3 linked regions of the Homo sapiens genome follow. The protein of the gene in region 2 interacts with the protein of the main gene of each other region in a biochemical or structural test. Each region holds a gene or a part of one and is shown on either strand. Other genes may lie near its edges.

Region 1 (3,747 bases), on a different chromosome or scaffold from region 2:
TGCAGGGCCTTCTAGCTCTGTAGCCCGCTCAGTGTATGCAAGTTCTGGAACGGGGACAGCCACTCAGGAGGTACCCAGTAACCAGGCACTAATGCAGGGAATGAAGCAGCTGTAGCTGCAGGGCCTTCTAGCTCTGCAGCAGCACTGCCCTGGCCTGACCTGAGGCAGCAGAACTGGTGAGTGGGGTGTGGGCTCCCAGCCCAGACTGCCCAAGTTTGGGTCCTGATCTGTTACTCGCTGTGCACCCTGGGGAAGTCACTCAGTGACCTGCACCCTGGAAGACAAGACAACCAACTGTTGGGGTTCCCGGGTACTGCTGCGGTCACCACTTAGACATCAGCATGGGCACCCAGTAAGCTGGTAATCCCCTCCTTCCCAATCAAGCCCCAGCCACCAAGGCAAAGCTCACTGCTGCTTTATTGGAGGCAACAGCCCCTACTGGAGCCTGTGTCTTAGCGTTCCTGGGGGTCCCAGGGCCAGCCCCGGCCCCCACCCAGCTGCCCTGGCCCTGCCTGGCTCCCAGCCCACTTAGGGGTGAGTGTGATGGGGGGACCAGTGTTCCTGTCCTTGGAGCCCAGGCACAGCTTGGTCCTGGGTTTCTGGGATTGGGACAGGGCAAGTTAGTGTGGGGCAACAGAGTCCCTTCGTCCTCTGGAGCCTGGCGCCTGGTTCAGCCCTAGAACCCAACCTGCTGGATGAGACTGGCTGGGTCCTACGAGATGTCCATCACAGAGGCCCTAGGCAAGCACAGCCTTGCTCCTGCTCACCCTCCCATGTGGGCCCATGTCCGTCTGTGTGGCCTGGGGTCAGGGCCCCTGTGACTGCCTTGGCCTGGCAGCCACATGGACTGCCATCACCTAGGCCCAGTGTAGCCGTAGGGGTGCCGCAGCAGCAGGCTCTGGTGGCTGGGCAGCACGTGGGTGTGGTAGTGCTCCACCATGCTGCCCACACTCACAAACAGGACCTCGCCCTCCAGGTAGAACTTAGAGTCCTGTGGGGGAAGAGAAGGGGGAGCGTCAGCAGGGCCAGGCCACTCTGCGGCTCTAGGCCTCAGTCTCCCCGTCTGTAAAACAAGGCAGCAGCATCAACAGCGGCATCACCAGGCTGGCCCCTGGCTGTCGGTGGTGCCCCCAAGGTGGCCTCCGCATCAGGCCTGTGCTCTCCATGTTCCCACCTCACTTCCCCTCCGTCCTCCATGTCCAGGAGCCTGCACCCAGAGCACTTCAGACAAGGTCAGGAAATGAACCTAGGCCAGGCACGGTGGCCCACGCCTGTAATCCCAGCACTGTGGGAGGCCGAGGTGGGAGGATTGCTTGAGCCCCAGAATTTGAAACCAGCCTGAGAAAGACAGTGAGACCCCTGTCCCCGCAAAAAGAAAAAGACAAGACAAGCAACCCAGGGTCTATGGCTGACCGCCCATCCCCACTAGGGTCAGTGGAGGACAAAGGTAGGCCACGAGAGGAGGGAGGCTGAGCAGGAGGGGTGGGGGGTGAGCGATGGTGGAGGGGAAGGGGAGGGCGGTATCCTGGAGGTGCCAGTCTCAGTCTACCCGCTGCCTATGCCTCATCAGGGAGATTCTGCCCTGCCCCTTGCCAGGCCATGCGGCCAGGGTCCCCGTCCCACTCAGAGCCCTCTCACCTTCTCAAAAATGCGATAGTTCCTCACTTTGTTAGAGGTTTCGTCCCACACAACCAGGACCTACAGGACGGAAGCGGGAGGCTGACGGCTCCCTGAGAAACAGCGGGACCAGCCTCGGGAGACCATGGGCTGGGGATAGGGGGGCAGAACCATCAAGGCTGGGTCCTGTGGCCCTCGGGGGGCGGGGAGGGACTCCAGACCACCTGCACAAGGACAGCGGGGGCGACACTGGCAGCCCTCAGAGAGCCTCTGATGAGCAACAGCTCATAACCACCAATAACCACTCCGACACACCCGGGAGAGCATGGCTCAGTGAGGTCACAACTTCACGCTCGGAGGGACACGGGCAGACCTGGCGTTCCCCTGCCCCATGTGGCCTCCGCCACCCCAGAGCATGAGCCCTACCCCACCCGAGTCCTGGCCCCCACTGGGAGGTGGCCATCATGGCCCCCAATTTGCAGATGGAGATCTATTAGGGAATAGATTGGGGGGTGCTGCTGGGAAGAGAATTCAGCTGAGACACCAAGTAAGAGTCCACAAGGGGAGTGGTTTAGGAACTGTGGAGTCCTGGGCCCACCCACAGCCTGGGTGTGTGGAGAGCCAGAGGGGCCCTGGGGCATCTTCCCCTGGCGCCTACCTTCCCCGACTTGGTAGAGGAGTTCCGGATGCAGTAGAGTCCATCCTGGGGCTCTCCCCGGGGGCTTGTAGCCTTGAACAACCTAAAATAAGACAGTCATATTAGCGGGTGAGTCCTCCTCGGGCAGCTTTCACACGGACCTTCCCGCCCCGCTCCCAAGCCTGGCTTTCTGTCCTCTCGCTGTTGTAGGTCTCAGGAGCTGAGCACGTCGGGCTGCCGTGAGGCTGACAGAAGCAGCCCAGCAGAGCCCTGGCCAGCCAGGGTGCCAGCTGGGCATGGGACAGAGCAGGGAGGTCCACTCCTCTGGTTTCTGCTGCACGCAGGGCCATGAACTTGTGCCAGCAACTCCCCAACACGGAAGCTAGTGAGAGGGACACAGAAGCAGGAAGCCGGGCATGGCGGAGGACCCAGCACACACAGGGCTTTGTGCTGACCTTTCCACTTCGCAGGACTCCGTGGTGTTGACGAAGACCGAGTTGGGCAGTGGCACCTGCAAGAGGCTGACGGTGTCAGTGCCAACGTCGGAGTGATCCACCCGCACCACCACTCCCCGGACGGTGGCCACCCGGTGCCGGGATCCGGGGCTTTACATGGTGCTGTGTCCCCCTAGGCTCCCGGGTTCTCGGGGGGTCCTTGCTCAGGACGGTCTGTGAGGGGCCGCCCTGGCCTATGGCTTTCCCACCACCTGTCCACCTACTGGCCACTGGGACCCAGGCTTGCCGCTCAGCCTTGCCTTCTCATAGTCCTCGTCCGAGTCGTCCCCGCCAGTGTCAGCCTGTGAGGGTTGCCGGGGCTTTTCAAAGGAGAAGCTCCTGAAACTCTGCCCATCGGGGGGTGATCGCCTGGAGGGGCAGGGAGAGGAAGGCAGGACCATTTCACTGTCAGACACGGGGCGGCCACCCTCTGCTCCCCTCCCCACTCCACCCTCTGTGTGAGGACGGCAAGCTGCCTGCTATGGCCCCTGTGACCCTAAAAAGCTCAGGACAACAGAGATCCGGGTAGGGCTCGTGCCGACTGCCCTGGGACAGCAGGAATCGCCCGACACCGGAGTCAGGGGTCAGGGCTGCCATGGATGCTGGCAAGGGAGTCCAGGGTTCCCAAGCTCAGTGTCATCACACCGTCAACAAGTGCTCTGGATGCTCGTGGGGAGGGGAGGTCCGGTCATGGCCAAATCACAGCCCACTCAGAGCCACAGGGGAGTGGACGTGAACTGGATGAACAATGCAGTGTGACCCCAAAGGACGCCCATGGCGTCCCTGCACGCCTCCCTGTGTGGCTAGCCGGTCCTGCTCAGCAAAGCCTCAAAGGCTCTAGGGAGGATTAACGGGCCACGCCAGCATGGGAGGCCAGCCTGTGGGTGAGGCTGAGCCCTGGAACCGCTATCCCCACAGTCATGGAAAAACGTGACTTCCGAACATCTGCATCTCTGCAGCCCTTGGTGAACTAGAACCACGAGTGTGACAAGGGCTGCT
Region 2 (3,747 bases):
CCTTCACGACAACTTGCTTCATCCAATCCTACGACCAACCGTTTGCAAAAATGGCTCCCTGCATTCCTCTCCCTTAAGGAATCCCTTCCCTACAGTGACTTTGGTTTTGGTCGTATGACTTGCTTTGTCCATTAGGACATCAGTGACATTACACAAACAAAGGCTTGAACTTGCCCTGTCCTCTCTGACTGATCTTGGGAACCCTGCACCACCACCACACAAACAAGCTTCAGCTAGCTTGCTGGATGATGGCTGCACTGGGCCAGCTCATCCCCATCACCCAGGTGACACTGAGCCAATGGCCAGTCATGTGAGTGTGGCCATCCCAGCCTATTCAGGCCCAGCCTAGATGACCCAAACCAGAACTGCTTAGTTAGCTCACAGAATCATGAAGAGCAATAAACTGTCATTTTGAGCCAATAAATCTTAGGGCTGCTTGTTATGTAGCAAAAGCTAACTGATACAAATGCAAAGGTTTCCTCTTAGAGAAAACAGCCCTGTCCTGTTCAGAAGTTGTGCCGGCAACTGAGTATTACGTGCAACATGTATCTAAGAGCTCCCTCAGAAGCCTTGGAAACTCCACTCCAATTTACAGCCTAAATCTGAATCTGTATGGTAGGGTGAAAAGAGTTATTTTATCAGCCCACAACAGAATCTTGGAGAGGGAGCTGCATCTTGCAAGAGGCCTGCAGGCAATCTACAGAAACTTCACATGGGTGAGGAAAATCAAGGGATGTGGTCATTTCCTCCAAGTGGGTTGACCTCAGGAGAGGAAACAGCCCTGGGGGAGGCAGATGACCCAAGGGATCTGCTGGGCAGGGGCTCAGGCCAAGAAGCACTCACGAGAAGGAAGGCCCAAGAATTGTCCCCACAGATTTCTTGGGGGAAAACACTGGGCTTCCTGAGGTCATGGGAAAGAGGCAGCACCAATTTATCTGTGTCTTGAGGCCTGAGTGACCTCAGCTGCACCTGGATACCATCTGTTACAGAAAAGATCCCGTGTCCAAACCAGAGAGCAACAGCCCCAGCAGGGCTGTCAAACACTCAGCAGAGTTTTAAAAAGAGATTTTCAGAGATTTTTTTCACATTAACAAACTCACAAATAGCTACATGGCCTCAGCTGTGGCTCAGACACGCACGTTCACCCACATATAAAAGCTAACATTTACCGCATTTTTCCTATGTCAGTTACCATACTCTCGATTCACACGTATTAATTCATGTAATCCTCATAGAGGATCCTGAGGGGAGGTACTGCTGTCAACCACAGGACAGTTAGAGGGGGCTGCTTCAACACTCTCCCGGGGATCCCACCTCACTTGGGGGAAAAGCTAAAGTCCCCGCCCTGCCCTCACCTCCTCCCATTCTCCCCCTCACTTACTCAGCTCCAGGCACATGGCCTCCACAATGTTTCTGGAACACGCCAAATAGACTCCTGCCTCCTGATCTTTGCACTTGCCATTGCATTTTCCAGGAACACCCTTCCCCCTGAAAGCTGCACAGCTCACTCCTCAGCTTCTTTCCCTTCCTCAGAAGTCACCTTCTCAGGAAGGCCTCTTCTGACCACCTAATCTAAAATTGCAACCGCCTCCCCACCTGCACACACGGCGCTTACCACCATCTGACAGGGTCTCTATTTTATTGATTCCTTTTCTTGTCTACCTGCCCCATGAGGACAGGCACTGTGTCTTTTTGGCTCACTGCCGTGTGCTCAGTGCCTGGTACACAGTAGGTATTCAGTAAATATTTGTTGATTGAAGGAGGGGAAACTGAGGCAGGCAACCACAGTCCGCTACTTGCCCAAGGGCCACAGCCAGCAGGTGGCGGAAGCGGGATTCCAAGCCAGGCCAAGGGACCGAGTCTGGAGGCTTTCCTAGTCACTACCTCTACTTCCCCATGTGCAAGTCCCTTTGCACATCAGAAACACACAACCCACTTGCACATGTGAGCACAGGGACACCCTTACGGCCCAACTGCACACTCACGTCTGCCCCAGTCCCCAGGATCCCTGCCAACGAGCCCCAATCCTCACCGCACCCAAATCCCGGGCCCCACATACAGGAACTTGCCGTCGGTCTGCGCCCCAGAGTAAAGTTTGCGCTCGGCCTCCTCACGCGTCAGGCTGCTGTGGTACCAGGGCATCCGCTCGTGGGCCGTCGTAGCAATGAGCTTCTCCACCTGCGGGGCCTGGCTGATGATGGCCTGCTCCAGGGCCTCGCCCTAGAAAAGGAGAGGCGAGGAGGTCTGTAGGTGTGGCCAAGTGCTCGCCACAGGAACCCCCTTCCGGGAGCCCTGTCCCAGAGGACTCCCCACCCCACCCAGGCGTCCCTAGCGCGTGTTAGGCAGGTTTTCGAGGACTACCTCCGCGCCATCTCCGTGGTCCCCTCCCCAATCCAGCTAGGGAGGAACCACCCCCACCTTCCAGCGCGGCCCCAAGCGCATCTCCAGCTTGAAGACCTAATTCAGGTAGTTGTGCATGGTGGTGTCACTCAGGCTGTGGACGACTACTGCCCATCTTCCCCAACAGCCACCCTACCCTAAGGGCTCACCCTAGCCCCGCGCACCCTCCTCTCAGCCCCGCCCCCATTCCAAGCCTCGCCTTCGCCCGGCCCAGTGCGTCCCTCTACCTTCCCATCTGGCATAGTAGAGCACCATAGCATCGCTCAGCCTGCGGAAGGCGACCGCCACCACGGAGCCCCTGCCTCTGAGGCCTCCTTTCAGGTTCTTCCCCAACCAGTGCCCCACCTCTCCAGCTTCCAAAGGGGACTGAATGGGGAAGACGACCTTTTCCTCCCTCCTATCCCCCCAAAACCCTCGACTGCCCCTCTTCGGCCACGCCCCTCCAGACCCCGCGCCCCAGGCTGCGCTCTCACCTCCAGCTTCCACGTCTGGCGCACGTAGTCACGCACCATGGCGTCTCGCAGGCAGTCGAAGACCCCCGGCTGCGGCTCGAGGCCCGACGGCCGGTTGCACGGCTTGCGCAGGTTGCAGGGCAGCCCGTCGGGGTCGCGCGAGTAGAACTCGCAGAGCTCTGCCGGTCCACAGTGCGCTTTGCCGCCGGCAATGGCGTAGGTGCCGTTGAGCTGGCGCTCGATGGGAAAGTGGTGGAAGCGCACATCGTGCACGAGCGACAGCACATAGCCGCCCAGCGAGCGCAGGCACTGGCGCAGCAGGAAGAGCCCGTCCGCCATGCCCGCCAGCTTCAGGTGCTCCTCGGCCTCGGCACGCGAGATGCTGCCGTAGAAGAAGGGCAGGTGCGCCGCGGGGTCTGGCATCGCCCCTGGGCCTCCCGAAACCTGCGGGTTCACAGAGGGTCGGAGGCACGTCAGGGCCTTCCTGAACCTGGTGCGTTGGGCCCAAAGACGGCGCGAGAGACGCCAAGTGGAGGGCATCAGTGCCGCAGACTGAGCTCGCCAAGGGGGCAGAGCCTGCTCTGTGCCAGAGTCAACCTGGAGAGAAGCCGCAGCCTGCTGGGCACAGATCGAGAAGTCCCAAACCCCCATCTGACTTTCCAGAGACATTATGTGGACGCCCAAGCACGCCAACTGGTCCCCAAGCACCCACACCTGTACCCATCTCTTCATGTCCCAACCACGTGCTGAATTATTGTGTTTCAGGCCCGGTGCTGGGGATATGCACGCTTGAGGCAGGCGCGGTCCCACCCCGTCCTCCCGAAGGCAACACTCTAAGGAGGGAGAGCCGTGAGATAAACTGAGAAAGAAACAAAAATAATAATTACAGATTGAG
Region 3 (3,747 bases), on a different chromosome or scaffold from region 2:
TCTATGAATATCTAAGCCAATTTAGGAAAAAAGGATTGAAAACAAGGGATTGGTCTATACATCATTTCTATATTAACATGTATTGCAAGGCCATAGTTACAAAAATAGTGTGTTTGGGGGCAGCTAAGAAAAAAAATAAACTAATGGAATAGAAGAGATATTTTAGAGACAGACTGATACAGAGGTGAACATATAATATGATTTGAAGGAGGCAACAAAAATCAATGGCGGAAAGATTGTCAGCTTAGCAAATGGTACCTGGAAATCAGGTGAACTGTATAGAGAAAACTAAAATTGGATCCCTGTACAATTCATAACATTGTCCTCCAAATAGACTAAAAACTAAATGCAAAATATGAAACCGTAAAGTTGATAAAAACAACATAGGAAAATATCTTTTTAAAGTAGACATAAAGAAAGACTTTTTACGTAAAGCCTAAAAAACACAAACCATGAGACAAAAAATGATTTGGGGCTGGCTTAGAAATAGAGACATTGATAATATGATTATACACGGCAAAACATAGTCTGATTCCAAAAATCAACTTACAAATTAGTTAAATAAAACTGTACACTAAGCTGATAACAGCCCATATCAATTCATCACCTGCAAGTATGTGTGTGTATATTTTATATATATATATATATATATAATATATATAAAAACTGGAGCTGACGTGTTAATCTTTCTTTTACTTTGCAACATAATATGTAATACATTATTTTGTCTACGAACAAGAAAGACCTGCCTACCAACAGTTAAGTTATTTTCCTGGTAGTTTTGTCTTGATCTGTTTCTACAACTGCTTCAATTCTACCACTCTTGAGGCCAGAAATACACCTACAGAATTATTAATTGTATTCTATGTATTCAAACTAACCATGTAAAGATTCTAGGTTGTATATTGGAGGTTATAATGTTCTTTCACCTGAATTAACATAGTGAGTTACACCAAAACTCACTATCTTATTATTCAATAAGTTTAATTGAACTCTGAGTTTCAACATCAATTTTTAAAAATTATCTTGTAGCAATAATTTCTATACCTTCAAATTAAAATTTTCATTATTTAAGGAATTTGGAGTTAGGCCACTACAGAGTGAGAAAAACATTGGTATAAGCAACATTTAGGAGCTAAAAGTTTGGGAAATATTTGGAAATACTTCTTTCTAAACACTGTGCCTTTGATAGTTGCTTTTGTTTTAGCAAGCTAAATTTTATTTTTTATATTGTGGAAACATAAATATTGATAACTAAATTTATTATTCTTGATTACAACCAATTTCAAAGCAAAGGCAGAAATAGTTCACCATTCAAGGCCTACAGAAAGCTCAAGAAGCTTCACTCAATTCCTTATTTCTGTCTGTCCCAGAGTCCTGTCTAGTTTCTCCCCTCTCCAACACCATTGGCTTTTGACGATTCGTTGGTCAGTTCATTACTTTCTTTTGTGATCGCCTTTCCTTTACCAGAACTCACATATTTGCTGTTAAAATTCCCCCCCTCCAATTTTCAAAAATGTATACTTTACAAGAATGTTCTAGCCAGTAAAGGTATTGGAGAGTGCTTACCTTCAAGATAGATGCCTGCCTGGATTTCTAGAACCCTGGGTAGGGTCCTGAGGTCAAGGGAGTGGACGAATTCTTCCAGTGATAATGCCATTGCTATGCCTTGGGTAGTTTGTAGACCTGGTGCTCACAGAAACTTGTGGCTTCTGGGTGACACTTGTCTGCAATTGCAGCCCCTGCTCACCATTTCTTCCTCAGGCAGGCAGGAATGTCACACTACAGCCAGAGTGGGGTGGAGTAGCTCTATGTGGGGAGGACAATGAAGAGGGAGGGGGGAAGCAGGAGACAAAAAATGTTATAGCTCTTTTTGTTCACATTGTGGCTTCATTTCCTTCTGACATTGAAGTTGAACAGGATGGGGGTGGGGTGAACAGACACTGCCCAAAAAATGAGACGTGCTAAGTAGCGCATTCTGTCCTTTGTTAATCCAGGTGTGCATCTACTATGGTAGCAAAACTGAGGTCAGAGTTGCTTGTGGCTTGCCCACCAACAAAGAACAGGAATATAGGACTAAAGTCTAATCTTAAAAATGGCACCATGTGAATTCATTATCTCTCTAGTTCATTTCTAAAGCTTGGCTTTGTGCCTTATTTGCATACTGTCAGTGCCTTTACATTAAAATTGGTAATAAAAGTGCTTTGCGTCAGCTCTTTTTAGAATTCTGATACTATACTCTGGAGAGAGTATTGAAACCACTTTTTATTCTTCCACATTAAAAATTTTGCTGAATCTTAAAGGAGGGTAGGGTAGGGATAGAATATGCAAAATGATACAGTAAATTAACAAAGTACATTAAAATGAGTTTTCTAATCTCTACACTATAGTAGAAAGTATTAAAATTACTTGTCAGGAAACCTGCATTTTCTGGGTTTAGTTCTGCTTTTGATTTACAGGCTAACGTCAGCCTTGTCTTCTCTGATTTTCATTTGTTTTATTTACTAAATGGAGATGAAGTAGAAGAGTCCAATAAATTTTATAATTTCTTCCAAGTTCACAATTCCACAATTCTGATCTTATTGTTGAAATTTAGGAGGGGAAATGATCAGCACCAAAGGAAGCAGGAGAAAACTCATGAACATTGATCTCTTCAAAATCCTGCCCCTCTCTATTTTTTGCATGTAACTGAAACAATATTTAAAATATATACAATTAAAGGTGGTAGTTCCTAAGTCTCTTTAAGGTAAAGTAGAAGAATATTGGTTGAGGCTGGGTACGGTGGCTCATACCTGTAGTCCCAGCACTTTAGGAGGCTGAGGTAGGAGAATTGCTTGAGCCCAAGAATTCAAAACCAGCCTGGGCAACATAGTGAGACTTTGTCTCTACAAAAAAATTAAAAAATTAGCCAGGCATGGTGGCACATGCCTGTAGTCCCAGCTGTGAGGAGGCTGAGGAAGGAGGATCACTTGAGCCCTGGAGTTTGAGGCTACAGTGAGTTGTGAACATGCCACTGCATTCCAGGCTGAATGACACAGCAAGACTCTGTCTCAAAAAAAAAAAAAAAAAAAAATAAAGAATACTGGTTGGTATGTATACACTTGAAAGATGACAGGAATCTACACGTTTTCTTTAGTAACCAAACCCAGGCACTTATCTATTAACTGTTTTGGCCTTAGGCTGCAGAGAGCATAGCCACATACAGAGGGTCAGGGGACATCTCAGTTCTACCATGGCCATCATGTAAATGACCTAGAAAGATAAAAACTGCCTAGTTTTGATATGGAGCTTATAAAACTGTTTCAACTCTTTGTAATCCTATTTGACATTTTCAATAATCAGTCCAGCTTCATTTCTTTCTTTATAAAAGTAGAATTTACGATTGACCACATCAACAGGTTTACTATCATTAGATTCAAATTCCTCACTGGCAACTTTTTTGTCCAAAAATGTCCTACCCTTGATCTGTCTGCCTTCCATACCCCTCCCCACAGTTTACAGCCTAGTAGTGTATTTCATGTGGATGAATACATGAAAGAGGCTTCTGTGGACTGCTCCTTAAAAATTATGAATCCGTTAGAACTGATGCCACAATACATTTCATTTGATATCTAATGCAAGCTGGATATCACTTATTTTTTTAATATTCCCAAGTCAAATTTCTATCCTACTAGCCAAACAGCCATTTCGTATCACCAATCTCTTACAATTACCTAGGCTCCATCTGCTTCTGCTCTCGCGACAGAT

The links.
Region 1: the proteins of ZAP70 (region 2) and SH3BP2 form a complex in vitro, tested with the Homo sapiens proteins (one study listed by BioGRID).
Region 3: of the proteins of ZAP70 (region 2) and THEMIS, one has a biochemical effect on the other in vitro, tested with the Homo sapiens proteins (one study listed by IntAct).

The regions. Positions count from the first base shown.
Region 1 is NC_000004.12:2,830,941-2,834,687, reverse strand, and holds part of SH3BP2 (SH3 domain-binding protein 2), read right to left. Parts: intron 3,118-3,747; coding exon 3,009-3,117; intron 2,766-3,008; coding exon 2,710-2,765; intron 2,358-2,709; coding exon 2,276-2,357; intron 1,699-2,275; coding exon 1,639-1,698; intron 992-1,638; coding exon 854-991; 3' UTR 1-853. UniProt on the Homo sapiens protein: Binds differentially to the SH3 domains of certain proteins of signal transduction pathways. Binds to phosphatidylinositols; linking the hemopoietic tyrosine kinase fes to the cytoplasmic membrane in a phosphorylation dependent mechanism.
Region 2 is NC_000002.12:97,723,565-97,727,311, reverse strand, and holds part of ZAP70 (tyrosine-protein kinase ZAP-70), read right to left. Parts: intron 3,297-3,747; 5' UTR 3,276-3,296; coding exon 2,874-3,275; intron 2,221-2,873; coding exon 2,060-2,220; intron 1-2,059. UniProt on the Homo sapiens protein: Tyrosine kinase that plays an essential role in regulation of the adaptive immune response. Regulates motility, adhesion and cytokine expression of mature T-cells, as well as thymocyte development.
Region 3 is NC_000006.12:127,899,273-127,903,019, forward strand, and holds the start of THEMIS (protein THEMIS), read right to left. Parts: upstream 1,787-3,747; 5' UTR 1,661-1,786; coding exon 1,570-1,660; intron 1-1,569.